Linked DNA regions of Homo sapiens: all the other regions are reported to be linked to region 1. The links are microRNA targets in miRTarBase. Many come from high-throughput screens and were not tested one by one. Region 1 holds a microRNA gene; each other region holds the end of a gene's coding sequence. Distances are between the middles of the regions.

Region 1 (6,317 bases):
CTTCCCAGAAGGCCTCAGAAGGACGAGACACGGAGCCCGCACACAATCCTGGACCCTCCTCCTTGCATTCAGTTTGATGCATGTCACCTGCCTGCATGATGGAGGTCCCACAATGGGCACAAGGGGACCCGTCAGGTCGGGAGGATGCTGCCCGGCTCACAGTCCACACATGGGGACGCGTCAGGTCGGGAGGGTGCTGCCCGGCTCCCGGTCCACACATGTGGACGCGTCAGGCCATCAGGGTGCTGCCCGGCTCACGGTCCACACATGGGGACGCGTCAGGTCGGGGGGTGCTGCCCGGCTCACGGTCCACACGTGGGGACGCGTCAGGTCGGGAGGGTGCTGCCCGGCTCACGGTCCACACGTGGGGATGTGTCAGGTCGGGAGGGTGCTGCCCGGCTCACGGTCCACACATGGGGATGTGTCAGGTCGGGAGAGTGCTGTCCGGCTCACGGTCCACACATGGGGACGCGTCAGGTTGGGAGGGTGCTGCCCGGCTCACGGTCCACACATGGGGATGTGTCAGGCTGTCAGGGTGCTGCCCGGCTCTCAGTATCAGCCGCATATGCACATTCTCCACTGAAGCCACTGCATGAAGCCACGCTGGAAGCACTTTCTGGCAGGTTTAGGAAGCTCACGTCCAAGGTCATTAAACGCATGGCAAGCTCGCCTTGGAGGCATTTTACTTTGCTAATGACAACGAAGCATTCTCATTGCACTGAATAGTTTAGAGCAGTCTTTCATGTCCACTGCCTCTTTGAAATAGGCATATTGTGCCTGTTTTACAGATTACATCAAGGCCCTAATATATTTAGTTCCTTGTCCCAGGTACACACAAATCAGCGACATCACTAGAACGTGTTTTGGACCACGAAAAGAAGGAAAATCACAGCATTATCCATTGATGCTGCTTAAAGCGTATTTCCAGATGTCCCTCCCCCGCCCGGCCTGTATCCAAGGCTTCCGCTGACCACGCGGCATCTGCTGGGCACTCTGCGCGCTTTCTCCCACACCCGCCACGCCTGTGGGCCTGTGCATGTCCCTCCACGCATCCCCACGCGGCTAAATCTCCCACACCCGCCACGCATGTGGGCCTGTGCATGTCCCTCCACGCATCTCCACGCGGCTAAATCTCCCATACCCGCCACGCCTGTGGGCCTGTGCCTGTCCCTCCACGCATCCGCACCTACCACGCGGCTAACACACACCTCCCACAGGTGGCAAGTGCCTGAACGTCCCCACGGCTGGCGGGGCTCCCGGTGCAGGACACACAGACAGGCACGGCCGCCCCGCCCACGGCCACCAAGGGCTTTGCTTTGTCCCCAGAGGTGCCCTTCGATGGGGTCACACGGCAGATGGCCAAGTGTTAGATAATTAAGGCTCAGGAAATCACCGCAGCCTTACCTTTAGAACTCACCTCTCCCCTGCACTTCAACCCGAAGGGTGGGTCGCCAGAGCTGGGGAAGAGATGCCCAAGGCTCCCTTGCGCCCTGACAGCCTCGGACTCTGCTCCCCTCTGTTGGTTTCTTACTGCACCTCAATAAACTTAGCTCACAGCAAGAGGCGGGCATGGCCAGAGTAGAAACACACGACAGACCCCGGGTAGACGCGACGGGGGACGAGGGTGCGTGCCGGGACGAGGGTGCGCGCGGGGAAGAAGCTGCGCGCGGGGATGAGGGTGCGCGCGGGGAAGAGGGTGCGCGCGGGGATGAGGGTGCGCGCGGGGAAGAGGCTGCGCGCGGGGAAGAGGCTGCGCGCGGGGAAGAGGGTGGGCGCCGGGAAGAGGGTGGGCGCCGGGAAGAGGGTGGGCGCCGGGAAGAGGGTGCGCAGGCTCCGAGAACCTGGGGGCAGCAAGGCCGGTCAAGGCTGGAGACTCCAACAGTGGCAGCAGCAAGGGTGTTGGCCAAGCCACAGAGACAGCCCCACCCAGAGGGGCTGCATGAACCAGCAGCGACCCTAACCCAACGTGCTCATCGGACTGGGCACACGCACACGCTGTGGACACGTGTGAATATGTTCCAATTAACGTGATGCTACGTAATAATCAACAACGTTAACCCCATGGCTTCATTACATGGCATCTGGCACATTGAGACTTTTTATTCTGTCTCTCTTCCTATACAAAGAAGTGGAAAATAGGTCCAAGATCATTCACAACAAATTATTGCTAATTGCAAAAAAAAAAAAATCCTACCCTCACCTTGGAAGATCTCAAGGCAACACCTCGTTCTTTGAGGTCATAGTGGGGACGCTCTCCGGACCCCTAGGTGAGTCTGTGACTGAGGGGAATCCCCAAATGGGCAGTTTTGGGGCCAGCACGGACGCCAGCCATGCATCCAGGCAGGTCTTGTGACCTCGGCTGGGTCACCAACCTATTCCTGCACTCAGACCCCGCCAGGAACGAGGGCACCGGCCCGCACATCTCTGCTCCCGAGGCTACATCCCCTACGTTCCTCTGCACTGCTGGGTTCCATGCCTTAGATCCCAGGCACCTTAAAGCTGATGTTCCCCCACCAGCCCTCATGAAGATGATACTCACACAACGCCCCTCCTCTCCCACCTGGTCAGTACCCAGGGAGAAAGGAACCCGGGTGTCAGCTTGATTTTCTGCCAGTACATTGAAAAAACAGCTGGCCAGCAGCACTGGTGCACAGCACTGCCAGGCTACCCATGAGGAAAGCTAAGTAAAGTCAGATGTACTCAAGTCGGCTGCGGCAAGTGCTTCTACATCCCTGCTCCAACAAGGAAAGACAGGAGGCCAGGCGTGTGTGTGGCTCACACCTCTTGTCCTTCCTTGTTGGGGCAGGGGTACAGAAGCATTTTGGGGGGCTGAGGCAGAAGAAATGCTGGAATTCGAGACCAGCCTGGGCAACATAGCAAGACCCCATCTCTACAAAAAAAAATACAAAAATGAGCCAGGTGTGGTAGCGCGCCTGTAGTCCCAGCTACTCAGGGGGCTGAGGTGGGAGGATCACCTGAGCCCAGGAGGCAGAGGTTGCAGGGAGCCAAGATTGCACCACTGCACTCCAGCCTGGGCAACAGGGCGAGACCCTGTATCAAAAAAAGGAAAGAAAGAAAGAAATACAGGAGACCACTAATAATTCCAAATAGTGCCTACTAATTTGAAATCTTTTCCAGATATGATGAAGGAAATTATTTTCCTTCCTACACCCCTTCTAAGGAAACATTTCTATTTTTCTGCTACACAATTTGGTAACCTGCCCTTTCAGATCCTGGCCTCTTTAAGCAGGACTCGCTGGTGTGCTAGCAAAGCAGTGCTCTGAAACCTCAGCATCCTCAGACCCACCTGGAGGGCAGGTGAAGGATGCTGGGCCTCCGCCTCCTAACGTCACACTGGGGTGGGGCAGGTCTGGGGTGGGGCAGGGTTTGCACTTCGAATGCATTCCAGTCTAGGGCCACATCGCCCTAAACACGCCCATCTCATCTAATGCATGCCAGAGGGAGGAGCCACACGGGGCAGGTCACAGAGCAAGTGTCCAGGCACCAGGCCACCAGGTGTCTATTTAAATGCAAACCAATCAAGCAGCTTAAGTCAAACAGCTTCACCCTCCTAACACATTGGCCAACACAACTAGTGATAAATATCACTGCTGTTAGACCTTCTGCTCACTGATGACCAGAGCAAGGGCCTGAAACATCAAAGCTGAAGGGCGTGTGCCACGGTCAGGGCTCCGCACACCCCCGTCCCAGGCCATCGCACACGGGTGCCCTCACCGGCACCGGGGTCTCACAGACCAGCTCCACTCTCACACTTACTGGGACACAACCACCCTTTCAGCCCTTCATGCGTCTGTACCCTACAGCAGTGTTCAAGGGAGGCTAATTTAAGAAAGGAATGTAATATGGACATCTGTGAACTCTTCCTCATATCCACTGAGTGGTCCTCCAGAAAGAGAAAGATTAAAAAGAAAAAGAAGATTTAAGAATCAAACACAGGGCCGGGCACGGTGGCCCACACCTGTAATCTCAGCACTTTGGGAGGCCAAGGTGGGCAGATCACTTGAGGCCAACAGTTTAAGACCAGCCAGACCAACATGGCAAAATCCCGTCTCTACTAAAAATACAAAAATCAGCCAGGCATGGTGGCACATGTCTGTAATCCCAGCTACTTGGGGGCTGAGGCAGGACAACGGCTTGAACCGGGAGGCAGAGATTGCAGTGAGTGGAGGTTGCAGTGACCCAAGATCGCGCCACTGCACTCCAGCCTGGGCAACAGAGTGAGACTCCGTCTCAAAAAAAAAAAAACAGGCCGGGCACGGTGGCTCAGGCCTGTAATCCCAGCACTTTGGGAGGCCAAGGCGGGTGGATCATGATGTCAGAGATCGAGACCATCCTGGCTAACACGGTAAAACCCCGTCTCTACTAAAAATACAAAAAAATTAGCCAGGCGTGGTGGCGGGTACCTATAGTCCCAGCTACTGGGGAGGCTGAGGCAGGAGAATGGCACGAACCCGGGAGGCGGAGCCTGCAGTGAACTGAGATCGCACCACTGCACTCCAGCCTGGGTGACAGAGTGAGACTCCATCTCAAAAAAAAACAAAAACAAAAAACAACACAGAAGCCCGTGGAACAAGCCCTTGCCCCAGTCCACGTCACCTGTGCTGTGCCACCCAGGAGCATGCCAAGCTCAAAGAGTCATCCACCTGCCTTGATGTCACTACTCGAATCACAGAGGCTGAGATTCCCTAACCCTCGTTATGTCCATGTCACTCACAAGCAGGCACTGGGCCCCCACAATGCACAGGGAATCCCTCTGGCCATCCAATGACCATCCATTGATAAATAAAAAGCATTAATTCCAGCTGGGTTGCAGAGTTGCACACATCAATACTTGTTACTGTTCACAAATGTTCCACCTGAGGGTGGAGTGAAGTTACAGAATTGGGAAGAACTTCACAGACGTATGAGGGTGTATTTAAGGAAAAAGTGTATGGAAGAGGTGAGAAAATAGAATATCCTAACCTCTGTCTTTTTATCACCCTCTAAATCCTATGATTCCAGTTCTGTTCATTCTGCAGTGAAAAATAATAAGTGATTCACACTCAGACACAAGGTGGCTTAGGAAGCTGCGGCTGTTTTAAAAAGATGAAACAATCTAGAAGGTCAGGATTCCGTGAGCGTATTCCTTACTAAAAAAGAGAAGAGACTGGGAGTTACACATCAGCTTGCCAAGGCTGTCCTGAAGTCCAGGAGCCCCTCAGGAGAACAGAGAATGTGCACCTTCTGCAGACCAAGGCAGGTGGCCGGGCCCAAGAGTGGGGATGGGGAGGCTGCAGGAGGCTTGCAGAGGGAGCTGTCCCGCCAGCCTCTGGCAGAAACTCCTGACTAATTAAACCCTGACAGCAACTCTGTTTAGTGAATTGTCTCCTGGTCACTAAGAAGAGTGAAGCTGTTGAAAGCCTACAGCCAACCCTCTGGATAATAGTTGAGACGTATTTTAGAGAAGGAAACGATCCCATCACAATCCCAGACTTGCCCACAGCTGCAGGCGCGTCCTGGGAGCGCGGCTTCTTGCTCTGTCAGCAACACGGCCCGCCGTAGAGCCACACGGGTTCTGCCTGACGCCCCCACTTCAGGGAGTCTGGGCAGGTGCAGCTGAAACAACGTCCGGGGGCAACCCCCACCCCCACTTCTCAAAAGTACACACAGAGGCAGACAGAATGAAACACGGCCCCCAAATCTCAGACGTAGGGTTCAGCAACACGGCCCACCATAGAGCCACATGGGCTCTGCCCAATGCCCCCACTTCAGGGAGCCTGGGCAGGTCCAGCTGAAACAGCATCTAGGGGGCAACCCTGCCCCTACTTCTCAAAAGTACATGCAGAGGCAGACAGAATGAAACACGGCCCCTGGGCCTCAGACATACAATTTAGCACCAGCATCTGTGAAACAAGAACAAAAGTCGCATGGGAAAGTGAGCATAAAAATGAAAAAATAACCGAATTACAGTGAAGATGGATGAGATGGGGAGGACTGTGAGGAAGGTGAGAAAGGGACTGAGGACCTGAAGAGGCACCTAAAAGCTGGATGTTCCCGACAAGACAAGAAAGACCCCTCCGGATGAGGTGGGACATCATCTTCATCATGGAAATAAAGGGGAAAAGCCTGAAAACATCAGTTTCCTACCATGAAGCAAAAATCAAACTGGCCTCAGACTTCTCCTCTACAACACTGGATTCCAAAAGATGAGGACATGGCATCCGTGGGGTCTTGAGGGAGAGCTGGCATGAACGTTCCAGAGCTGAGTCTCCAGAAGCAGCCAAAACAGCCTCAGATCCAGCAGAGTCTTGTCTTGA
Region 2 (6,317 bases), not on the chromosome of region 1:
ATGAAGACTGAAAGAGAGAATGTGGGCTCTCATTGTTTTTTCTAGTCTGCTTTTTTGCATACCTGGATACCAGGCCTAGGGGAAATGATAATTTCCATGTAAGATAGTAAGTGCTATGATAGAGGCATTTGGGGATTAGTACTGAGTCAGCTTTTATAAATACCTGACAGGGTCTGGGGTGGATTTCTGGAGGAGCGTTCGACTTGAGCATTGCTTGAAGCATGAGTAGGAATTAACCACGAGAATAGAAGAGAAGCTGGGTTTGGGAAGAAGTAAGAGCTTGAACGAGCAAAGCCATCGAGATGTGAAACCTCAGGGTTTTGTGAGGAACAGTAAGCCCTTGGTGTCACTGGGAATACAGTGCAAAGCAAGGAGGGGTGCAATGTGTTTGGGGGGACCTGGGCTGTGGGTTTGCCTTGTTGAGGAGCTTGGGCTTTGTCAGAAGGCAGTGGAGAGACTAGGTTGTAGGTTGTACTAACAGTAATGAGCAGGTTATATTCATGTTTTTAAAAAGATCACAGTGGATTTTGTATAAGTGACAGACTTGAGGGAAGCTGGGAAATTGACAAGGGTACTATTGCAAAAGTCGAGATAAGGATTGAAGAAACATTTAAGAGGTGAAATGAGCAGGACTCAGTAATTGAATTGGGTATAAAGAGTGAGAGAAGAACCAAGGCTGACTCCCACATGTTTAGCCTGTGTGTCTGGGTTGGTGGGAGCAGCGCCAGCCTCAAGTGAGGGCATATGTACAGGAAGCAGAGCCAGTCCAGGAGATGATGTGAATTTGGAGATGCTGAATTCAAGATTCCTATTGGATGACCAGTTTTACATTTGAATGTTATTCCATTTGAATGTTATTTGAATGCCTATAATTACATTTGAATGTTTACATTTGAACGTATTCATTACATTACATTTGAATGTTACAAATGTAACATATTACATTTGGATGTTAACTGCATGTATTTACCCTTGAGAGGAATAGACACAACTGAGGGTGATTTAATAAGATTTGGTTAAAATAGAAAGCTTTCTAAAGACAGCAGGAAGCCATGTAATATATGTAGAGCCTTCCCTGCTTCTTGCTTTATTTTCCTGCCCTGGTGGTCAAAACTGTAAATAGGTGAGCTAGATGAGTTTGTCTAGAGAGGCTGTAGCATAGGATTGTGGGGCCAAGGATGAGATTCTGGGTTACAGACGTGCCTAAGGGGCTTTGCTTATAGAAAGGAAACTGAGAGCATTGCTGGGCCATCAGGTTCATCAGGCTTTACAGTGCTGTAGTGATGTCTAGGACCATTCTTTTCCAGGCCCAGTGCTAAACGACGGTATAAAAACCAGAAGTTTGGTTTTGGTGGAAAGAAGAAAGGCTCAAAGTGGAACACTCGGGAGAGCTATGATGATGTATCTAGCTTCCGGGCCAAGACAGCTCATGGCAGAGGCCTCAAGAGGCCTGGCAAGAAAGGGTCAAATGTAAGTGAGCCCAGGTGCCCGGGTGAGGAGCAGGCTCAGCCTCCCCTCCCACTCCCAACCCTGCCCTCTCCCTTCAGTTCTGTTCGTCCTCACCCTGGGGCAGAAGGCAAGCTGCTATGTGACCAGATGTGGTATGTCTTTTTCTGTAGAAGAGACCTGGAAAACGAACAAGAGAGAAGATGAAGAACAGAACACACTAAATAGCATCTTTGAATACAAAGAACCAAGAAAAAGGAATGAAGACTCGCAATTTCACGACACACTTTGATCCCTTCTGTTGGTGTCATGTTGTAAACATTTCTTTCAATAAACTAAAGAAAAATTATTAAAGGAACACATACCTTTGGTTAAATAGTCTAGACTAAAAGATTGAGAAGTTACTTTCCATTGCTATCTATTGATAATTTAGACATTGAGTTCAAATTGCCTTCATTTTATGATAAATAATGATTTAACTGACACCTTCTCATTTCCTTTGTCTCATCCTTCTAAATAGTTATATTACGATCAATCCCTGTAAAGCTCAATGCCCATATTTTACAGGTGTGAGCCACCGTGATTTTCTTTGTGGTACAGCTTTTGGTTTTTCCTCCAGTTAACCTTCACCTTACATTCTTCTGCTTGCCTAATTTTCCTTCTATATTCTTAGTTCTTTCCAGATGCTTTGTCATTTTACCCACTTTATAATTTTTCTCCTACAACCTAGTTATGCCACACAACTGTCACCTTTTTTCTAGACCGTTTAAGTTGGCACCATTATTTCCAGAATCCCATGTTTTCCCATCTTAGCATATGCCTTCTTTTGCTGTGTACCATTTTTTGGTATCTTACTAAGAAAGGGAAGATGAGAGGTAAACTTTTTATCTCCTTGCATTTCTGAAATTGCCTTTAATTTGGGCTGATAGGAATTTCCTCCTTAGAATTTTAGAATTTCGCAGGCACTGTTTTTAAGTTTTATTTCAGTTCTACTTTTGGGGGGAGATATATTTTTGTTTTTTAAAATCTTTTTTTTTTTTTTTTTTTTTTTTTGAGACACAGTCTCACTCCATCGCCCAGGCTGGAGTGCAGTGATACAATCTTGGCTCACTGCAACCTCCACTTCCCAGGTTCAAGTGATTCTGCCTAAGCCTCCTGAGTAGCTGGGATTACAGGCGTGCGCCACCACACCCAGCTAATTTTTGTATTTTTAGTAGAGACAGGGTTTCACCACGTTGGCCAGGCTGGTCTCAAACTCCTGACATCAAGTGATCCACCTGCCTCTTCCTCCCAAAGTGCTGGGATTACAGGCGTGAGCCACCATGCCCGGCCTAAAATCATTTTATTGAATATGAAGTTTAGCTTTCATTTCATTTATCCCCCAAGAGTTTCTTATTCTCTATTTGGTCATTTTTCATATCATTTTACTCTTATCCTCTAGATGCAGTATCTTATATCTCTCAGAATATGATTATAGTTTTAATTTTTTTGATAAAGTTTCCCTCTGTTCCCTTCATTCTGTTTCTGCAGCCCATGCATTTTGATCTCCTCTTTCCCGTGTTTGAGCAGTAGAGTATTGTAGAAGCTAAGAAGCGTGGATTCTGGGGCCTGGCTGTGTTGCTTACTTGCTGTTTGACCGTAGGGAATTTAATTTTTATTTGCCTTGTCATCTCTAGCATAATGTAGATGTATCTACCTCATTGGGTTCCTGTCAGTATTCGGTTAATCAATGTAAAACACTTAGAACATTATCCTAATATAATCCGATAATCTGATAATCCTCTCATATTCCTTTGATTAGGATTGTTTTGCTGGGGTTTCTTTCCTTAATATCTGGCAAGCCTTGGTTGTTCATACATAAGCGGAAGCTCTGCGTAGGTGGTACATTGAGTAGGCAGGCCACATTAATTGTTGGGCTTTACTCTGTGTTGATAGGGTGGTAAACCATTTTACCTGCCCCTTCTCTCTCCATTCCAGTTTAGAAATCATACTTTATTTTTAAAGAAGTTAGAAATGCCTGAGAGCTATATAGTATCTTTAGCAGAAAGAATAATTTATTTTCACATTTTCTTGTAGCATTATTGGCACATGAAAAGGATATTTCTGGATTCATATAATACTAAGATTGTAATGTAGAACAAAGAGAATTTAGTTTTTGTAAACTAATTTCAACTAACAAAACTGGTCACACAGGTCATATCAAGAAGACAAAAATATTTACTCTGTCCTCTTTCATAATTCATGCCATATTATTGAATGGGGATAATGTGTAACAGGCTCAGAAGCAGTTTGAGACTTTGAATTATGCAAGTAAATATTGAGAGTTTCACAAAAGAAAGCACAGGTTAACAACATTTCACATTGATAAAGCCAAAAGTAAGTTTTTAATAACAACATACCTCTAAAGGCTTTCTTGAAAACTATGTCCCCCCTCTTTTACTTCTTGTTTTTTTCTCTTTTTTATTACAGAGCAAAGATTTACATATGGACTCACTTTCCTTAGTTTTAGAAATATCCTCTGTAGAACTCATTTACATCACTTCTATCATTCCAACCCTCAAAATAAAGGGTGATCAAGGTGCAGGTAGCATTATGCCTTCTTTTTCTTTTTGTATAGACAGGGTCTCACTCTATTGCCCATGCTGGATTACAGTGATGTGATCATAGCTCACTGTATCCTCAAACTCCTTGGCTCAAGCAATCCTCCTGCCTCAGCCTCCCAAGTAGCTGGGACTACAAGTGCATGCCACTATGCCTGGCTAGGTGTTTTTATTTATTTATTTATTTATTTATTTATTTATTTATTTATTTATTGTAGGGACAGGGTCTTGCTCTATTGCCTAGGCTGGTCTCAAACTTCTGGGCTTAAGCAATCCTGCCTTGGCCTCACAAAGTGCTGGGACTACAGGTATGAGCCACTGCACTCAGCCTCCTTCATATTGCTTTAAAATAAATACAATCCCATCAATTGAAAAATAAGTAGGAACCTAGGAGTCCCCAATACAGATTCTAATATGCATGAATTCAGTTATCATGATGTAATTAAATAAGTTTCTCAACAATGTTCACATTTCAGTTACCAAAGTAATAACTGAGTAGATGCGTAAAGTAGAAACAGTCGCTGCTAGCTCTTTAGTCCACAAATCACTTCATAAATGACAGATGCACGAAGACTAGTGACCATCACTTCTTTCAAAGTCTGTCCCAAGATCAGTCACTGCATCAGTTATTCATTTCACACACACACACAGCAAAGTGTGTAGTTGTGTTGCCTCTTTGTCTTTAGCAATAAACTCCTCATGCATTTTATAGAAGTAGATACCTGAGAGGGAATTGACCACCAAGGATTAATGTACACCAAAGAAACAAAAAGTGATAGGGCACGGTGACTCACGCCTGTAATCCCAGCACTTTGGGAGGCCGAGGTGGGCGGATCACGAGGTCAGGAGATCGAGACCATCCCGGCTAACACGGTGAAACCCTGTCTCTACTAAAAATACAAAAAATTAGCCAGGTGTGGTGGCGGGCGCCTGTAGTCCCAGCTACTCGGGAGGCTGAGGCAGGAGAATGGCATGAACCCAGGAGGCGGAGCTTGCAGTGAGCCGAGATCGCGCCACTGCACTCCAGCCTGGGCGACAGAGCAAGACTCCATCTCAAAAAAAAATAGAGTAAAATTTTTTTTAGATTGGCCAGGTATTGGTGGTATGCACTTGTCCCAGCTACTGAGGAGGCTGAGGTGGGAGAATCTCTTGAGCCTGGGAGTTTGAGGCTGCAGTGAGCTATGTTTGTGCCACTGTACACCAGCCTGGGTGATAGAGTGAGAACCTGTCTCAAAAGAAAAAAAAAATATTTTTTAAATGGTGAGGCTGGAAGTAAAATTTGAGTGCAATGCAAATGGAATTGTAGATGAAATAGCTGATATTGGACTGTGAATGCTGTTGCCCTTCTAGAGACTAGATATACAGCCAGAGAAACCTTGTGAAGGCAAACTTACAAATGAGGAAAGAGATGGAAAGGATGAAGATGTCTCCAGAGAGTGACACTAGTAAAAAACTGTACATTAAAGGGACTCTTGGAGCTATCTAATGACATTGGAAGATCAAGTGATAAAATGTTGAAACTAAATCCAAACTTAGAAAGGAGTAAAGACAATTTGCCAAGGCACGGAAAAAATGCTTGTTCTTCATCGTAAGTTATAGAAGGGAAAAAAGAAGACAAGCATGGTTTTTCATACAGAAATAAAACACTTGATTCTCAATATTTCTACTGTTTTAAAGTGAGTCTACTAAATTTTAGTATTTTAATTTTGTTACGCATTGAACAGAGTTTTTAATACTTTCACACAAATTTTTTTTTCATTGTTTAGTTTTGTTTCGAAGACTTAAAGATTCATACTTTTTTTTTTTTTTTTTTTTTTTTTTGAGACAGAGTCTTGCTCCGTTGCCCAGACTGGAGTGCAGTGGTGCCATCTTGGTTCACTGCAAGCCCCGCCTCCTGGGTTTTCACCATTCTCCTGCCTCAGCCTCCCGAGTAGCTGGGACTACAGGCACCCGCCACCACGCCTGGCTAATTTTTTGTATTTTTAGTAGTGACGGGGTTTCACCATGTTAGCCAGGATGGTTTCGATCTCCCTACCTTGTGATCCGCCCGCCTTGGCCTCCCAAAGTGTTGGGATTACAGGCGTGAGCCACCGCGCCCGGCCAGATTGGTACTTTTTTTTTTTTTTTTTTTTTTTTTTTGAGGCGGAGTCTCGCTCTGCCGCCCAGGCTGGAGTGCAATGAGCGATCTCGGCTCACTGCAAGCTCCGCCTCCCGGGTTCGTGCTGTTCTCCTGCCTCAGCCTCCCGAGTAGCTGGGACCACAGGTGCCCGC
Region 3 (5,554 bases), 130 Mb from region 1:
AATGTCTGTTTCATTTTGCATCTTAACCTAAGGATATTTGTTTGTATTAAATACTAGAAAAATGTGAGGGCTAGGCGTGGTGGCTCATGCCTGTAATTCCAGTACTTTAGGAGGCCTAGATGGGAGGATCGCTTGAGCCCAGGATTTCAAGACCAGCCTGGGCAACATAGTGAGACCCTGTCTCTAGAAAAAAATTTTAAAACATAGCTGGACATGGTGGCACGTGCCTATAATCTCCGTTACTCAGGGGGCCGAGGTGGGAGGATCACCTGAGCCTGGGAGGTTGAGGCTGCAGTGAGCCATGATTACGTCACTGCACTCCAGACTGGGTGACCGACTGAGATCCTGTCTCCAAAGAAAAAAATAGATCAGGTGTTATTTCTTAAATCTAGCTAAATAGCTCTTCATTCCCAAGCGATGCCCCACTGCCCGATTTTCTCTCGTGTCCAGATGGGCCTGGCTCCCGACCCCCAGCCCAGAGTGAGACTGTGTGCGCTTTGTCTGCTCAGGGTGCTGGTTGTACTTTGCTGCTTACGGTGGGACTGAGACCACAATATTCTCACAGGCCTGCTTTTGTTTGCTGGGCACTTGGAATGTCTTTCAATACAACGTTCACCATTATTATTACCCCATTGGTGCTCTTGCCAAAAATTCCTGCAGCAGGTCTCAGCGATGGGTTTCACTTCAGGGAGGAGGAGACCCAGTCCCCGGGAGGCTGGCCTTGTGGTGCTGGGGACACGCTGGGTGTGGGGCCCCTGACCAGCGCCCACCACCCGCATCTGCCCGGTGCAGAGTCCCCAGTGCGTTCCTAGGGGTGGCGGCACCACCCCTCAGACCCGGGGATTTGGGCAGCATCCCTCCCTCGGCACAGTCCTTAATAGCGTCCTCTCCTCCCTGCCAACAGCTCTGTCTTCAGTCTGTAATCGCGTGTATTTCTTGCCAGAAGCACTACAAACTCTTTTTTCTCTTTCTTTCCTTCCGTTTCTCCATCCTCCCCTTTCCGTTTCAGTTTCTATTTTTGTTCTTATTTTTCTCCTTAGCTTTCATTCTCTGGTCATAGTCCGTCTTGGCACCCTGACGTGGTGAGTATTTCGTTGGCAGGGCCCAGCAGGGGTCCCGCTCTGCTTCCCGGAAGACTCCTCTGCCCCTGCCCTGCCAGGGAGTTGCCCACCTGCCATTCGATCAACTGGAAGGCGATGACCCAGCATCCCCAAAAGGGTTGTTAGAAAGCCACCCGCGTCCTTCAACACTGGAAGTCCCTCCCTGGGGGTCAGGACCCGGAGTCTTCCACTGTAGAGGCCGCAAGGTGCTCACCTTTCCTGAACGGGAAGGAGAGCAGGGTTCCCACCACCACCCCAGTGTAGCAGAAACATGCAGGACCCTCTCTAGGGGGTCTTTCTGCTTTGGTGGCACTCGGCAGCAGGCCCTGGGGGCAGACACGGTGGTTCTGTGATTCGTCCTTGTTCTTTTCTGGGTGGTGCTGAGCACAAGCTCGGGCGGTGCTGGAGATTCAGCCAGGAGGGCTTGGTCTCCCTGCCAGGCCGGGCAGCTTAGGCCAGGATAGCTGGAGTCTACAGGTCATGGCTGCTGCTACCATGGCACCCGCCAGCATAGATGGCTGCCTCCTTCCAAACTGGAGGAGGGGCAAGTAGGACGTCACATCATTGTTCGCCTCGGTCCTCGAGTCTGCACCCTTCAGCAGGTCCCGAGAGGAGCTTCCCCTGGGAGCAGGGCTCTCCCTCTCCATGAAGCCCCTCATCCCTCACCCCTTACCCCTCACTCCAGCCAAGTGGAGTCTCCCTGACATCCTCTCCACGCAGCCCTTCGGTCCTCACCCCTCACCCCTCGGCCCTCACCCCTCGGCCCTCGCCCCTCGCCCCTCACCCCTCGGCCCTCGCCCCTCGCCCCTCGGCCCTCGCCCCTCACTCCAGCCAAGCGGAGCCTCGCTGACTCTGCACTCTACGTTTCATTTCTTCCAGCCCCACATTGAATCGGACCCTTTTCCTCCAGTGGGACCAGAAAGCAGGGACAAAATGGGACGTCGCGTCTCCATCCTGAAGACCCAGGGAGATTTGGTCTCTGCACGCCCGTCCCGTGGAGGAAGAGTGAGAAGGGGCAGTGTGTGGGGCGTGGAGCTGCCGTCCACGTGGGATGTGCCAGAACTAGAACTGGCTCTGCCGACTTCTCGGGGGCTTCTCCGGGACGGGCCTGGCCTTGGCTGCTGGACCCTGGGTCCCTTCTCCCGGACGGCAGCCCCCATCCCATTTCCAGGGATGTGTAGCATTCCCTGCCAAGCAGGGGTGAGAACTGCTTCTGTGCAGAAGCACCAGCCGCGGGTCCCCTCCTCTCTCTTGGTTCTCACAGTAGCTGCCACTGGTGTCTGGAGGAAGATTTTCAGAAACAACAGAGGCTTGGCCTGATGACAAGATGAAAGCTGGACGGTGACCTTCATTCAGGGGAACCTGGAGGCTCCCTGGGATGGTCCTGGGAGGGCTCCCCGACGCCTCAGGGGCCCCTCCGATGCTGCAATATGTTGCTGGGGTCCTGAGCACCCGCTGGCCAACAGACCCCACATCCACCCTCGTTCATCATCATCTCTGTGGGGACAGACAAGAGCCGTGGCCGCCGCGGGCCGCGTGGTGCCATCAACCCTCTGCCTCCCTACTCAACCTGAGACAGGAAGGCCAAGATCCCGCCCAAGCCGCCAGCTGGGAGCACCGCGGGACTGAGCCAAGGAAGGCGTGGGGAGCGTGGTGACAGGAGGTGGGACGAGGGGGCGGAGCTGGCTGGAACACGGATGCCAGAGGCTGCCTCCATAGTGAATCTCCAGAAGTCACAGAGGCCCTGGGCACCCAGAGCCACCCAGCCTGGAAGCCCCTGCACGGGCCAGCCCTGCAGGCCATGGACCCCGGCGGGCACCGAAGCCTCACCCCAAGCCTTTGCACACAAGGAGCAGCCCAGGTGGGGATGGCGGGCGCAAGAAGGGAACCGCGGGGACGGCCTTTCCCCTCCCGCCCTGTGTGGGGACGCTGCACGAGCCGTGGACCAAGAGGCTGACAGGTAAGGGCTGCCATCTGTCCGCGGGGAGGGCCTTTGCACCCTCCCTGCGAGGTGAGCTCCAGCTTCTTCACACCTCTGTGTCCCCGTCTGCACATGCGTGACGCTGCCACCCCGTCCACTGCTGACCCGTCAAGATCACCTCTCCCGCCACTGACGGGACAGGGCCTGGGGGCTGGTGTGGAGCGTGGCGTGAGCTGTCGCTGGGGCAGGGTCTGCAGACATGGTGCTCCACGGGGACCTGGCGTCTGGCAGAGCTGGTCCTCCTCCCACTTGCAGGAGGAGGCTTGCGGGAAAAGGGAGAAACCCCGTAGGTGCAATGAGGCCGCTCTCCGAGTGCGCCTCCCTCCGCTGCTCCCGTGCACTTGAACGTGGACGCCGCCCCACACTCGGCCCCGGCACCTGAGGTGTCCGCTCTGGGGAGGCGACTCTGGGTGCTCCCAGCAGGGAGGGAGGGAGGTCAGGACTCTGGGCATGCTCCACCGTGGAGCTTTCCTCGCCAGCGGGGTTCCCTATGGGAGGGTTTGTGGATCCGTTGTGTCTGTGGGACTCAGCGGGGCCCTGGGGCAGGGTGAGCCGGTTCTTGGGGAGGCAGTGGCAGCCCCATGGGGGGCCGCCCAGGGAGCGCTCCATCTCCCCCACCTCCGACCCACACCGTGTCTGAGAGCCACCTGTGTCTCCTGCAGTGGGCAGCGGCTGTGGGCCACGGGCACTGTTGTTCCCGGGAGATGCTCCCTGCGTAGAAAATGGGAGGGGGAGGAGGAGGTGCGACCACCACCCTGGACTCAGGAGAGGGCGGCAGCTCCATCTTCACCCTTGACTCAGGAGGGGTCCGCAGCGAGGAGGAGGTGCGAAGGGGGCGGCGGCTCCGTCTTGCAGGTCCCCTGGGGCGCGTTCTTCAGGTGCGTGGTGGACGAGGCGGCGTCCTCGCGGGGTCGGGACCTGGGTACCCAGCAGCATCTGGCTCCTGCATCCACCAAGGGCGCCCAGGCACAGCCTCAGGCCAGAAGGTTCGCTGCAGAGGTTCATTCTAGAAGGAGCGGGAGACCAGCAGTCCCAGCCCTGTCCAAGGACGCCCGCTGCTTGGCACACGAGGGCGCCGCAGGCCCACCATCCCTCAGGACATGGCTGCCGAGTCCCCAGAGACTTCTGGTCCCACAGCAAGAGCTGGAGCTCCAAGCATAACATCTCTAACTGTGCGGCAAGGACAGCGCAGCCAGAGGTCGGGAGCTCCACAGCCTCCAGGGTCCCCCGAGGGCGGCTGGGGACAGGGAACGCCCCACAGCACAACAACACACACGGCGTGGACATACGCACCTCCCCGCCATACGAACCTCCCCGCGGAGGCTTCCCGGCTGCCTCACTCCCACCCCCTGCGGGCCAGGCCTCACAGCAGGGGCAGGTGGACCATCCAGGCCATGCTAAGCCCCGAGCAGGTTCCCACAACAGGTCACAGAGGGGACGCCGGGTCAGGAGATGGGGGCCTGGGGAGCAAGGCCCCCCACAGCTGCCCTCGGTGACATCTGGGACTTGGACATCCATGGACGGCATCCCTGGATGGAGCCATTTCCTGGGTACTGGACCTGGAGGTGACTCGGAGCTTCTCCTGCTCCCAGCGTGTGTCCATGGGGGCGGTCAGGGTAGACAGGCCACACCGTCATCAGGGAGGGGCAGCCGGCCGCCAACGTGCAGACTGTGTCTCAGGCCTGTCGGCATGGCGGGGACAGAGGTGGGTGGGCGCCGCTCCGCTCGGGGGCTGACAAGCCACAGGCTCATTGTGGACAAGGCGTCTGTACAGCTCCGCACAGAAGACTTCTCAGCCAGTCCCGTCAGCCTCCCGGGATCAGGGAGTGAGCCTCGAATGCTAGATCAGAAAGGAAAACGTGTGAGTCAATTGGCCCCAAGCGTCACGTTGCACCAGGCAGAGCTGTCAGCCCCAGATGCTCGTGGAGGGCTGTCACCCAACCCTGCAGCTAACCCAGGGGTGGGGAAACCTGTGAGCAGAAACCTGTCCCCGCTGGAGCACCAGAAGCAATGCCTTCTTGAGCATGTTCAGTCAAGTGAGGAGAGGAGAGCGATGCCTTTGCAGGCTCCCTTGGGGGAGGTTACGGAGCGGGGACTTTGGGCCGAGGCCGCCAGCTCACAGGGCTCCTCTGAAGCGAGGCGGCTGTCATCCTCTCGGGATCCTCTCCCACCGCGTCTGCTCCGAGTGTGCAGTCTCCAGCGTGAGTTTGAAGGGTGTCAGGAAAGAGCTACTACCTAAACTTGCAGCCAGCAAGGGGCTTTTGTGCCCTAGTCCCCACTCCCAGCCCTGGACCACCAACCCCACACCCATGGGAAGCAGAGGGCCCCTCACCCACAGCCCGGCAGGTGCACTGTGCGCCCTGCTCTGTGGTAGAGGAATTGCGACAATGTCCGTCCGAGTGTATTTTTGCCCAGTAAATGAGACGCGAGACGTTACTGTGCTGTCCCAGTGAGCATCTCCCTTCTCTCCAAT
Region 4 (5,954 bases), not on the chromosome of region 1:
TGAGCCCCGGGGAGGCTCAGGGCCAAGTCTGGGGACTGAAGGGTCAGGCCCCTCCCTTGGTCCCAGTAGAGGTGGCAGGGGGGCCATCTGGGAGGGTGGCGGACGCTGGCGATGGCCAGCGGCAGCCGGTCATTCTCTGCGTGGATTGTGAAGGGAGGGGTGGCACGGGCCAGGGCTGGTCCTGGGGGGGTGCCTGTGGATCCCTCGGGCCTCCCCTCCCAGCTGAGGTCCCCACGTTCATCCTGTGTCCATGTCCTGCTGGCCGCTCACCTTGGTGTAACGCAAGGTCCATGTGTCCCCAGGAAGCAGGAAGAGCTGGTGCAGCAGGTGCGGAAGCGGCTGGAGGAGGCGCTGATGGCCGACATGCTGGCGCACGTGGAGGAGCTGGCCCGTGACGGGGAGGCGCCGCTGGACAAGGCCTGCGCTGAGGACGACGACGAGGAAGACGAGGAGGAGGAGGAGGAGGAGCCCGACCCGGACCCGGAGATGGAGCACGTCTAGGGCAGGTGCTGCGGGGCCACGGGGGCTCCCTGGAGTCGGGTCCTGGCAGTGGGGACTGCCTGGTGAACACAGATGTGCTTGGGATGACGGGTGCCTCCCAAGAGCTTCCCATCTCCCTAGAAGAGCCCAAGCGTCCCCGTCCCGTGGAGTCGCTAAAGCCAGCCCTCCCTGTCCTTTCCAGAGGCCCTGCCGAGAGCCCGTGCTGCCTGCTGGAGCCGCCTGCAGACGCGGTCCTCGGCCCCACGTGAACCAGGCTCGGCGGCGAAGCCCAGCCTTGGAGACACCCAGGAGGAAGGCCGTGCTCCTGGCTCCCTCCTCGGCCCGTCCCCACTTCCCGGGGCCTCGGGGCACACAGCTGGGGCTGCCCCCACCCGAAAGACCCTCCACGCTCGTCCTCTACAGAGTCCGGCTTCGGGAAGTGCCGGGTGCTCCTGGGCCCTGCCTGGCTCCCTACGACCTTTGGGCTCGAGGCCAGCTCCTCCCCATGCCCGCTGTCCCAGCTCCTTGAGACTGGAGAGCAGCCAGCAGGTGCCCGGCAGCTCGGCGCCACGGCTTGCTGACAGCTGGGAGGGTTTCTCGGTCTGGAGGCGTAGTTTTGAAACTCACATCACCCACTGTGCAGCGTGAGGACGGGACTCTGGTCTGCTGTGGGGGGCATGCAGGACGGCGCCACTCTCTGCCCTGCCATGCGGCTGGTGGTGCCACAGAGCCTCACCGTGCCTGAGTGGCATGCCCAGGAGGCCGCTCTCCTTCAGTAAATGTAACACAGTCGAGGCACGTCATCGGGCAGCCTTCCCTGTGTGCCAACGCCAGCCTTCGCTTCTGAAAACCAAACTCCAGCCGCTGCCAGTCGGGACTTGGTCGCCCGGCGCTGCCAGAATGCTCCACTGCCAGCCGGCCCCCCTGCCTCGGTTTCCCTTCTGTTTAGTGGCGACACAGGCACCCAGCTTTGGGGTGGTGCTGACGCTCCCAGGGGTGCCAGGAGCCACTGGGACAGGGTGAGGCTCCCAGACGCTCCTCGAGGTGCCCAGCTCTCCAGGGAGCTTCTGGCCCAAGGCCGTCTGAGGGATCTGCTCCTTAACCCCCCAGTGCCTTGGCGAGGGCAGGTTCCAAGCCACAGACGCCTGCCCCGAGTGGACTCTGCGGCCAGTCCCTGGTGCCCTCCTGGCCCTGCTGCCCAGTGAGGGCTCCTACGGGTGGGTTCATTGGCCTGGGCCCAGCGAGCCCCCACCTGCATTGACCTTAGGCCCATAGAGAGGGCCTGTCCCGGTGCTGCCCCAGCCAGGATCTGGTCGCTGCCCCAGGGGGACTGATGGGCAGAGTCGCCCCTGTGGCTGGACTGTGACCATCCCTGATGGGGCCTGACCGCGGGAGCTGAGGAAGCGCCGCTCCACCGTCTGCCCTCCAAGGACCCGCATGGAGGCAGTGGGCTGGCAGCTTCCTGCTGCTCCCTGTCAGAGTCAAAGCACAAATCCTCAGGACGGGCTCAAGGGCCAGGGCAGCCGAGGGAAGCTCCAGGTGGGGACCACGTCTTCCTGAGGTTGGTGCCCACTGGCTGGGACCCTTTGCAGTGGGGTGGCCTCCCCTCTGTCTGCCTGGTGGAGGGAGCCGTGGGCGTGGGGACGTGACTGAATAAAGCCACCATGGGTGGATGTGCTTGGAGCCTGGAGTTCGGTGCGTCCGCTAGACTTTGGTGCCCACGTTTGAGCTTCTGTCTTTGGTTGGGTGATGAAAGGCTGAAAGCGGTGTGGGGACAGGGCCAGCAGGTCCCCCAACCTCGCGGACATTCACAACCCAAGAGTCAGGCTTAGGGGTATTCAGAGAAGACCAGGCCGGCCTGGGCATCTGTGGGCAAGGGCCGTGCCCCCTGAGGTGCCGCTGGCTCAGCCTAGGGATCGTGGGTCTTGGCCCTGCTGCCCCGGTGAGGAAGATGGGCTGGGGCTCAGACCCAGCACCGCTCCTTCCAAAGGAAGGGAAGCAGGAGGGGCTGCCTGGCAGGGAGGGCCCCCCAGGTCCTCAGGTCCTGCACAGCCGCTGCAGGGAGGGGAGCTGTGCCCCGGGACCCTGGACTTCAGCTCACTAGCCATGGCCACTGGAAGCTGCTTTCTGGACCTGAAGGCTGGGAGGCCACCCTCCCCTCATCTGCCCGGCACTCAGAGACACTCTGTTTCCCTCTTCCCATCTCCCACTGTGTCCCTGTCTCCCTTGGTCTCTCTCTGTCTCTGTCTATCCCTGTCTCTATCTCTCCCTCTTGTCTCTCTCTTGCGCCGTCTCCCTCTCTGTCCCTCTTTGTTTCTTGCTCTCTCTCCTGTCTCTCTCCCTCGGTCTCTGTCTCTGTCTCTTGCTGTCTCTCCCTCTCTGTCGCAGCCCAGCTTCCTGTCACTGACAGACCCCGATCAGTCCCTCTGATCCCGGGGTTCTGGCCATGTCCTGGCCTTGGTCTGAGATGTGATGATCCCTACCCCTGCCACAGGGCCCTCCCCACTGGAAGCCCATCCAGGCCCTGGGCTGTCGCTGTTGACGAAGCTTGAGGGTCCTTTCCTCTCTCCCTGAAACCTTGGGGACCCCCACAGGCCAAGGCAATACTGGCCTTTGCTAGAGGTCGTGCCCGGTGAGAAGTGAGTTGTAGGCGTGGGCACCTGAGGGGCCAGCCCAGTGCTCAGGCCCTCGTCAAATTCCCTGCCCTGGAAAAGTCTCAGACCCTCAGGCTGAACCCCCTGGGCGCACCGAGGCTCCACACTCCAGCCCCAGAACCCAGACCTGGCATGGGGCGGGGAAGCCTGAGCTCCCAATGCTGGGATCTTTCGTGGGGGCCTCATGACCAGCCTGCCCTGTGCGGTGCCTGGCCCCATCCTCAAAGGCCACTTGGCTGCCCCCAGCCCCGCCCATGTCTCAGCCCCAAGACCTTCTGGGACTTTTTTTTTTTTTAGACAAGAGTTTCGCTCTTCTTTCGCTCTTGTTGCACAGGCTGGAGTGCAGTGGCGTGATCTGGGCTCACTGCAACCTCCACCTTCTGGGTTCAAGCCTCAGCCTCCCGAGTAGCCACCACGCCCAGCTAATTTTTGTATTTTTAATAGAGACAGGGTTTCACCATGTTGGCCAGTCTGGTCTGGAACTCCTAACCTCAGGTGATCCGCCCGCCCCAGCTTCCCAAATTGCCGGGATTACAGGTGTGAACCACCATGGCAGCCCTTCTGGCACTTGCCAGCAGCAGCAAGAGCCTCACGTGTCCCCCGCCTCCCCTCAGACCAAGCTCCCCACCGCTGCCGCCACAGAGGGTACCAGGGAGGAGAGGCTCAGGACCCCCGTGGCGAGGATGCACCTCCCAGCCCTCGGCCCAGCCACACGGACCACAGGGCTCCCGAGTCTCAGCAACACCAGCTAAGGGGCATCATGCCTCTCCTGCCACACCCAGGGCCCGTGCCTTGCTGTCCCTGCAGCCCCCAGACCCAGGCAGACAGGGACAGCCCTTCTGACCACCGCACACACTCGCCACCGCAAAGATCCCCGGGGATGCCCCTCGCCTGTGTGTGTCCCTCATGGCTGTCACAGCAAATCTCCAGGAGCCCGGAGGTGCCCATGGAAAACACCCCCAGCTTCCGGAACGTTCTTTCGGACAGGGCCATACCGGAGCAAGACTCAGCTTTCTGGTAGCGGGTGGCTGGGCACTGCCTGTGAGATTCTGTCACACTCGCTCCAGATTCAAGGGGTCCAAAAAGTGTAAACAAGTCAAGTGCCCATCCAGGGATGAACGAACACAGCCCGGCCCGGCCACACCATGGAGCAGGACTCGGCCATGAACAGGAACCAGGCTCTGACACCGGCCACGGCGCAGATGCCCCTGGAGGAGTCCACCCTCAGCAAGAGACACACAGACACCGACACGGCGTGCAATCCCATTTGTGTGAATGTCCAGGACAGGCCGATTCAGAGACAGGAAGGGGACACGTGGGTGCCAGTGACTGGGGATTATGGGGACTGGGGGAAATGGCTAAAGGGCACCCACAAAAGTTAATGATAATGTTCCACAGTTTTTTTTTTGAGATGGAGTCTCACTCTTGTCACCCAGGCTGGAGTGCAATGGTGTGATCTCTGCTCACTGCAAGCTCTGCCTCCTGGGTTCACGCCATTCTCCCTCCTCAGCCTCCCAAGTAGCTGAGATTACAGGCATATGCCACCACCCCCAGTAGAGACGGGGTTTCACCATGTTAGCCAGGCTGGTCACGAACTCCTGACCTCAAGTGATCCCCCACCTCGGCCTCCCAAAGTGCTGGGATTACAGGCATGAGCCACCGTGCCTCACCAGAATTGTGTACTTTTTTTTCTTCTTCTTCTTCGGCATGGAGTTTCGCTCTTGTTGCCCAGGCTGGAGTGCAATGGTGCAAACTTGGCTCACCGCAACCTCCTCCTCCCGGGTTCAATAGATTCTCCAGCCTCAGCCTGCTGAGTAGCTGAGATTACGGGCGCCCGCCACCACACCCAGCTAATCTTTGTACTTTTAGTAGAGACAGGGTTTCACCATGTTGGCCACGGGCAAAAGAATTTTGTTGAGGGCAAATAATATGAGACCACAAAACTGCCTTCCCTGCTCAGTTTTAATTTTCACAGTTTTAATTTTTAGCCTTCTCTGGTTACCAAAATAACCACGCTCACGGCCGTTCATTTGAAGATATTTCCAGTTAACGTGTGTGAAGTGGGTTTTTTGAGATGTAATTTACAAGCAATAAAATGCTCCTGTCTCTGCTGTCCTGCCTGCCTTCCTTCTCCATCACAGGATTCTCCCTGTGCATTTTCCTTTTCCTTTCTGAGTTTTGTTTTGTTTTGTTTTGTTTTTTGAGATGGGGTTTCCCTCTTGTCGCCAGGCTGGAATGCAATGGTGCGATCTTGGCTCACTGCAATCTCTGCCTCCCCAGTTCAGGCAATTCTGTCTCAGCCTCCCAAGTAGCTGGGATTACAGGCATGTGCCACCACGCCCGGCTAATTTTTTGTATTTTTAGTAGAGACGGGGTTTTGCCATGTTGGCCAGGCTAGTCTCGAACTCCTGACCTCAGGTGATCCACTGATCTGCCCCCACCTTGGCCCCTCAAAGTGCTGGGATTACAAGCGTGAGCCACTGCACCTGGCCTTTTTTTTTTTTTTCTTTGTTTTGAAGCAGGATTTCACTCTGTCACCTAGGCTGGAGTGCAGTGGCGTAATCTCAGCTCACTGCAACCTCTGCCTCCCGGGCTCAAGCAATCCTCCCACTTTAGACTCCCAAGTAGCTGGGACCATAGGTGTGTGCCATCAGACCCGGCTAATTTTTAAATTTTTTGTACAGGCTGGGCAAGGTGGGACACGCCTGTAATCTTAGCACTTTGCAGGGCCTAGGCAGACAGATCACTTGAGGTCAGGAGTTTGAGACCAGTGTGGCCAACACGTACTAGAAAGCACGAAAATTAGCTGGGCATGGTGGT
Region 5 (5,960 bases), not on the chromosome of region 1:
ATAGATATTATTATCTGTATTATACAGTTGAGGAAATTAAGACTTACTGGAACCTCATAAGTGGTAGAACCAGGAATCAAACCCAACATTTGGCTCCACAGCCTGTGTTGTTAAGTGATATGCTATACTGCCTGAAACAAGTGTGAGTATCATAGTGTGCAAATGATATGACTGTGGACAATAAAGAAGATTTAAACCAAAGTTTTGATATTTGGATAGAAATCATTATTATTAAACTGGTATCACTGAGGGTGCTAAAGGGGAGAAAAGCTAAAGGGAAATATTAAAGAATGAAATATTGAAGAAGTAAATACATTTCATAGCATAGATGTCTTCTTCTTTGTATGTTCGTACACTGCAAATAAATAAACATAGACATTTTAAAATAGGAAAACCTAAATGCCTCTCATCCTAACTAACTTTAATTTTTTCTTATCCCTAGGTTTATTTGTATTTCCTATCTATTGCCTTTGTAAAAAACAGAGAAAACGATCACGGACAGGTATGCACTGGTAACATGCAGATGATTTCATCCAGCTAAGCTGGTTGGAGTAGGAGCGATACCAAAGGGTACACCCATCTGTGAGTCACATCTTGAAAAACACTGAGAGGAACCTTCTACCATCTCATCTCCCAGTGATTCTCCGTGGGCCACAATGCCTCTAGCTATGGTGCACTCCCAACATGGTATCCTGTCCTTTCCCTAAACAAATTGCTGCTGCTTTTAAAAAATGGTCACTTTCATAAACTATAAACATCTATATCATAACTCTGACCTTTGTGGTTCTTGGAAGAAGATATTTTAAGAACCAGTTATCCTAAGAATTCTGAGCACGCCTCTTCTGAGAATTGCTTGGACTGTCTTTGAACTCTGCACCTCCTTCCAGGCCATCTTGTGAGACTTGGTGTTAATAGCTGAAGTCCTATCTGTACCAACAAGCAAGGCCACTTTTCAGAAGATAAGAGTTCACTGAATGCACCTATTATAATCTGTGGCCCCAGCAGTATAATTCTTTTATCTTTCAAATGTTATAATTGCAAAAAATCTCAATGTCCAAAAGGGAATGAGTGAAACTAAATTAATGAGAAGAATATTAAGTTACTGAAGTGTATATGCGTAGGGGCGTGAATGTGTGTGTATATAAATATGTATTAAAACTAGGCCCAGTAACCTTGTACTTACCCAGTTCCATGCCGCTACACTATTTTTCCACATTTTCATAGACCTATTGAAAGATGATGGCTCCTTTGTGGACATAATTTAGCAATGTATTAAATTAAAGTCAATGTAGACAACAGGCCATTTCGATACTGAACTTTTCTATTTCTTGCTCTTTCTTTTTGTCACACAAACACAGAAATTTGTGCAACGTCACCCCAAGGAGTATTAAGCTTTGTAAACTGACAAAACTGGCTGCTTTTAGGAAATTCTCAAGACACAAATATTCAGTCTTTTTAAAATTCTTACATTTTGGAAAACATGCTTCACTCTATAGATAGATCCTTCACATTGGGATTATTTAATCCCAAAAACAAGTTTGCTGTAGACAACTGCTTAAGCCTTTAAAAAATTCCTATTCTGCTAATTTTTTAACCAACTTGTAATTATAGATAATTCTGCTTTAGGTCAAGGTCTTACATCATTTAATATCCTAACCTTGTTATCTCTTGCCTCCTCCTCTCTGTTTTTATTTGTTTTCAAGGTTTTTCATAAAAACAAATACTAGTTTTGAAGGATTTTTTCTTACATTTAACTGCTCAAACATAATATTTTTGGGGACACCTTCTTATGGAGGAGTTTGAAAACTTTTTATGTTCTTGAGTTTGTCCAATATCAGCTGCTTTTGGGAAAGGAAACAAAAAAGTGAAGGAAATATTTTCAGGAAGTTTTTCTCAACCTACAAAAGCTTTAAAAATAAGAAATTGACAAGTAACTAGACTATGATATGCCTTTGCTTTCATCACAAAAGTTCATCAGCAAACAGGAAAAAAAAAGACCCCTAAAAAGCCTAAAGCTTTAAATTGTCTCCAAATTCTTAAAATTAGTCATCTGTCTTAGATGTACATTTATTTGTCAGCAACCTTGTCTGATTTGAAATAGATGATATGATAAAACATGCATTAACATGAGTAGTTTATTTTTGTTGGGCTCCAGAGTGTAAGAATATTTTATTTTTTGTTTGACATAAAAAGTGAAGTTGACTTGCGTGAATAACAATCCAGCATGCTTTCATTCTTTCTGAATAACACAGAATAACTGTGCTACAGCTTCTGGATTAGTTGTCTATTTCCAGTTAGAGGAGTGTGTGACATTTATGGTTTGGGAATAGCATATTTCTAAAGCATAATATAATACAAGAAATAGTGATGCTCTGTTTTCACAAATTTATCTTTTCATTCACCCATCCATCCATTTAACAGATATTTATTGAGTGCCTATCTTAGGTGTAATAGTATTTAAGACTGAAAGAAGGAGAATTTCTAACCTGTCATAAGAGTAAGGTTTCGTAAATTCATCTTTCCTGAACTTAGGCATTAGTTTGGCAATATGTGAATATGATGAACTCTAAACCTAGCTGATCTGTATATGTATGATGTATATATGTCATATGTATGATATATATGAAATATTCCCATAACTGCATATGAACACATATGCCATATACATATATACCAACGGGCTGAATAACATACTCTTTTGTCTTGGATAATCTGTTTTCTGGGTTATGTATCTGTTGTCTTTGGCCTACTCAGGGATTTTTATTTCTTTAAATAACTTATCTTTTGGACATATTTTTATATTATTTGGAAAACTTTCCAATATTCCTGTTACAAAGTGGTGTCTGTTTTCAGTGATGGCTATTTCATCAGTGCTTGAAATAGTGTGCACTGTGTTGCACAGGTTTTTCATTTTTCTATTGAGTAGATATTTTTAAATTAACATACACATTTTTCTCTTTAAAGGGTCATATCTATTAGGCCTTTCCCTGCTGGTAACTTAAAATGATTATTTGTGAATTTTTTACTAAGTTTCATCAAGATCTTAAAAAGAGAGAAGAAAATAAAAAGTATTATTTATATGTCAGTGCCAACTTTGAAGGTAAAACAGTAGTAGTAACTTTTGGGAGAAATTCTAAAAACTACTTTAAAAAGAAGCGTGCACATAAAATAAATATCTTTCTATCCAAGGCTTGTCATTTTATATGCTTTTATTGTAAATTTAATATATACTACTTTAAAAAATTGAACTATACAGAATTTATAAAATACAACTTTCTCTACTTACCCCACCTCTTATTTTCTAGGGGTAACCACTGTTAATGGTTTGGTATGTGTCCTTCCAGACACTTTCTACAAATATACAAATAAGTGTGTTTGTGTATGTGTCTGTGTGTGTATTCATTTTATACAAATAGAAAAATATTCTTACTGTGCTGTGACTCTTTGTCATTTTATTATATATTAATAGATACCTTTCCATAAGCGTTTAAATAGATTTACCTCATTCTTTTATAAATTACTGCATAATCCATTGTAGGAGTATACTTTAACTTATTGAATTAGTCCCCTGTTGAATGGACTACAAGATTATTTTCACTTCTCTATTACAAAGAAAGCAAGAGTGAAGACCCTTTTGCATATATTTTTGTCACCTTGCATGAACATATCCATAAGGTTGTACATTTGTTTTTTACAAGATCTTTGTAATAAACATTTTAATGTAATTTCAGGAGATGAGGTCATAGAGATAATATGAGACCCTTTTTTGGATAAAAAGAAAGATTGTACAGGAGTGCATAATTTTTAAAGAAAATCGTCTTTTGAAGGGTAATTTCCTTTCTGCCTGATTAGCCAAATAAATACCTTGCCAAAACTTACAATAGGAAATTTTTTTTCAATAAAAATAAAATTTGAGGAGATGTGTGTCAGATAATGTGAGAGAGATGAATTGACTTTTGGATTGCCTCATTTTAAAACTTGAGGGATTTAAATCAAATACCCAAGCCAAATTGGTGATACTTTTCGCATTTTTAGTAACACTATCCACTTTTGTGTATGTTGCTTGACAGAGGAACTTAATTATGCCATTGTGAAAAGTAGGAAAGAATATGTTGGCAATTATAAATGCCCACAGCAATTCCCAGAAAAATACATTAGATTATGTACGATTTAGTGATTTGGTGGGATAATTATAAATCGTGGAATAATTTATATATGTGGAGTAAGAAGAGAGGGGTCAAACCTTTTGGTACAAGCAACATCTTGTTGCCACCACCTTGATTTTCTCATAGGTGCTATTGTGTCCTAAGAGTAGAACAGACAAGAAAACAAAGATAATTAAACACAAGTCAGGTTACAACATGATATCTTTAATTGTACTTTCTCTGCTGTGGTATCAAGATTCAGTGGTGCTTGTCAGAAAATACCTTGTTCTGTGACTCTGACTATCTCTTGAGTCCCAAGGCTCCAATTGAGCCTTTATCTTTCAACCTTACCACCCAAGTATATGACCAACTGTTCTCCTAAAATACCTATGAACCACTGTAATCATTTCCAGTCCCTGATGCCCCTCTTCAACCTCATTTTTCTCCATACCTCTGCTATTCTAACTATTCCTCTTCACTGAAGGAGAAGAGGAGAGACAGGAGGGGCCTAAAAACTCACTCTGGTATGTGGGAAACATTAGAATTCCTTCCTGACCTTTGTCAAATGAGGGCACATCTGCCAAGACATCAGTCCAGCTTCTCCCTTGTTAAATGAAATTGTTTTTAACATTACACTTTTATACTGGCTGTTACATTAGAATTACAAAAAAGTTAGTGGCCTCTATAACCTTAATTGGCATACTTTACTACAAAAATAAGAAAATGTATGCCAAAAAACGTTTTTAGATTTTAATTTTATAAGCAACCTGCACATAAGCCTTAATGTGAGTCTTCACATTGGATTATATTTTTATTCTCCCATATTTGTGGCTGAAATCTCTCCCAACTATTGAGAGTGATCTTTCCCATGGTCTGCTTTATTGTTTTGTGTTAATATCTATTATAAATATAGCCTTAAAATTTTGTAATGCACTTTAAAATATTTGTGCCATTTAAATAATGACAAAGCAATCAATGCATACATTTCAATGGAGACAGTATACAAAGTTAAAGCAACTGATACATATATTTCAGTGGAGACAGTAGGATAACAGTGTTAGCAAATATGTGTCATCTCTTTAAATTTGGGAGGAATCAGAAGCTAAAGATTTAAAACAAATAAAACATACCTGAAGAAAAGTAGCAATTTCTGAAATTGTAGTAATCTTGGAATGGTTATCAAACCTAGCAAATAATACTTAATAAGTGTTACCTAATATACCTAATTGGAATGTTTGTTTAAAATATTAAATTAATTTATACTGAAAGTTTTAACTGCAATTTCATAATTCATGAATTCTATAAAAGAAATCTCCCTCACTAAAAATATGATCAATCAAAACTACCAGTTTTGCACACCAATCCCAAGTTTAAGCATATTTTGTATTTAAAGTTATAATTTAATTATGATACTGTCCCCCTAATATGGAAAATAAGTTACAAAATTCTTTTTTTTTTTTTTTTTTTTTTGAGACAGAGGTTCTCTCAATGTTGCCCAGGCTGGTCTCAAACTCTTGGGCTCAAGCGATCCTCCCTCCTCTGCCTCTGGAGTAGCTGGGATTACAAGCACGTGCCTACTATGCCTGTCTTCAAAATCACATTGTTAATTTTTATAGCCACAATTATTAATTTGATAAAACAAATAATTTTATAGAAGCATTAAAGTATTATCAGAACAAAATCAGAGTTCCAAAATTTGGGGAGTATTTTAAGATTGTGAAATGTTACCTTTTGGATGCAAACCAATGATACAAATCTTTAAGAAAGAATTACAGTGGGACTCCTTTGAAACTCTGATTTTGAAAATAGAACAAA

What was found. The annotated mature microRNA hsa-miR-5699-3p reads UCCUGUCUUUCCUUGUUGGAGC and lies in region 1 at 2,735-2,756, opposite strand. An mRNA with a match to its seed (bases 2 to 7 or 8) in the 3' UTR can be bound and repressed. Matches are read on the target gene's strand: a 7mer-m8 pairs with bases 2 to 8, a 7mer-A1 pairs with bases 2 to 7 and ends in A, and an 8mer does both.
Region 2: the mRNA of EBNA1BP2 is a reported target of hsa-miR-5699-3p. The part of its 3' UTR that is shown has no 7-base or 8-base seed match.
Region 3: the mRNA of JAKMIP3 is a reported target of hsa-miR-5699-3p. Seed matches in the 3' UTR shown: 8mer at 2,674-2,681 and 7mer-A1 at 2,756-2,762.
Region 4: miRTarBase lists MBD3 as a target of hsa-miR-5699-3p. Seed matches in the 3' UTR shown: 7mer-m8 at 3,579-3,585, 7mer-m8 at 3,957-3,963, 8mer at 4,433-4,440 and 7mer-m8 at 5,007-5,013.
Region 5: the mRNA of RNF217 is a reported target of hsa-miR-5699-3p. Seed matches in the 3' UTR shown: 8mer at 4,641-4,648.

Annotation. Positions count from the first base shown.
Region 1 is chr10:638,965-645,281 of GRCh38, forward strand. It overlaps MIR5699 (microRNA 5699), which reads right to left and starts at 2,814; the gene lies at 2,725-2,814. The region is part of intron 1 of DIP2C (disco interacting protein 2 homolog C); the gene reads right to left. It overlaps LOC124902361, which reads right to left. Exons shown (of 1, transcript XM_047426106.1): 1 at 1-6,317. RefSeq lists an enhancer at 758-1,664.
Region 2 is chr1:43,159,796-43,166,112 of GRCh38, reverse strand. EBNA1BP2 (EBNA1 binding protein 2) reads left to right here. Exons shown (of 9, transcript NM_006824.3): 8 at 1,308-1,470; 9 at 1,620-1,929. The coding sequence ends at 1,670. Among named protein-coding and RNA genes, the nearest start is that of MIR6733, 8.8 kb to the left of the region's middle.
Region 3 is chr10:132,165,974-132,171,527 of GRCh38, forward strand. JAKMIP3 (Janus kinase and microtubule interacting protein 3) reads left to right here. Exons shown (of 24, transcript NM_001323087.2): 22 at 1,010-1,082; 23 at 1,980-3,060. The coding sequence ends at 1,060. Among named protein-coding and RNA genes, the nearest start is that of JAKMIP3-AS1, 18 kb to the right of the region's middle.
Region 4 is chr19:1,572,887-1,578,840 of GRCh38, reverse strand. MBD3 (methyl-CpG binding domain protein 3) reads left to right here. Exons shown (of 7, transcript NM_001281453.2): 6 at 303-506; 7 at 683-5,245. The coding sequence ends at 501. Among named protein-coding and RNA genes, the nearest start is that of MEX3D, 7.5 kb to the right of the region's middle.
Region 5 is chr6:125,082,422-125,088,381 of GRCh38, forward strand. RNF217 (ring finger protein 217) reads left to right here. Exons shown (of 6, transcript NM_001286398.3): 6 at 443-5,960. The coding sequence ends at 516. Among named protein-coding and RNA genes, the nearest start is that of TPD52L1, 68 kb to the right of the region's middle.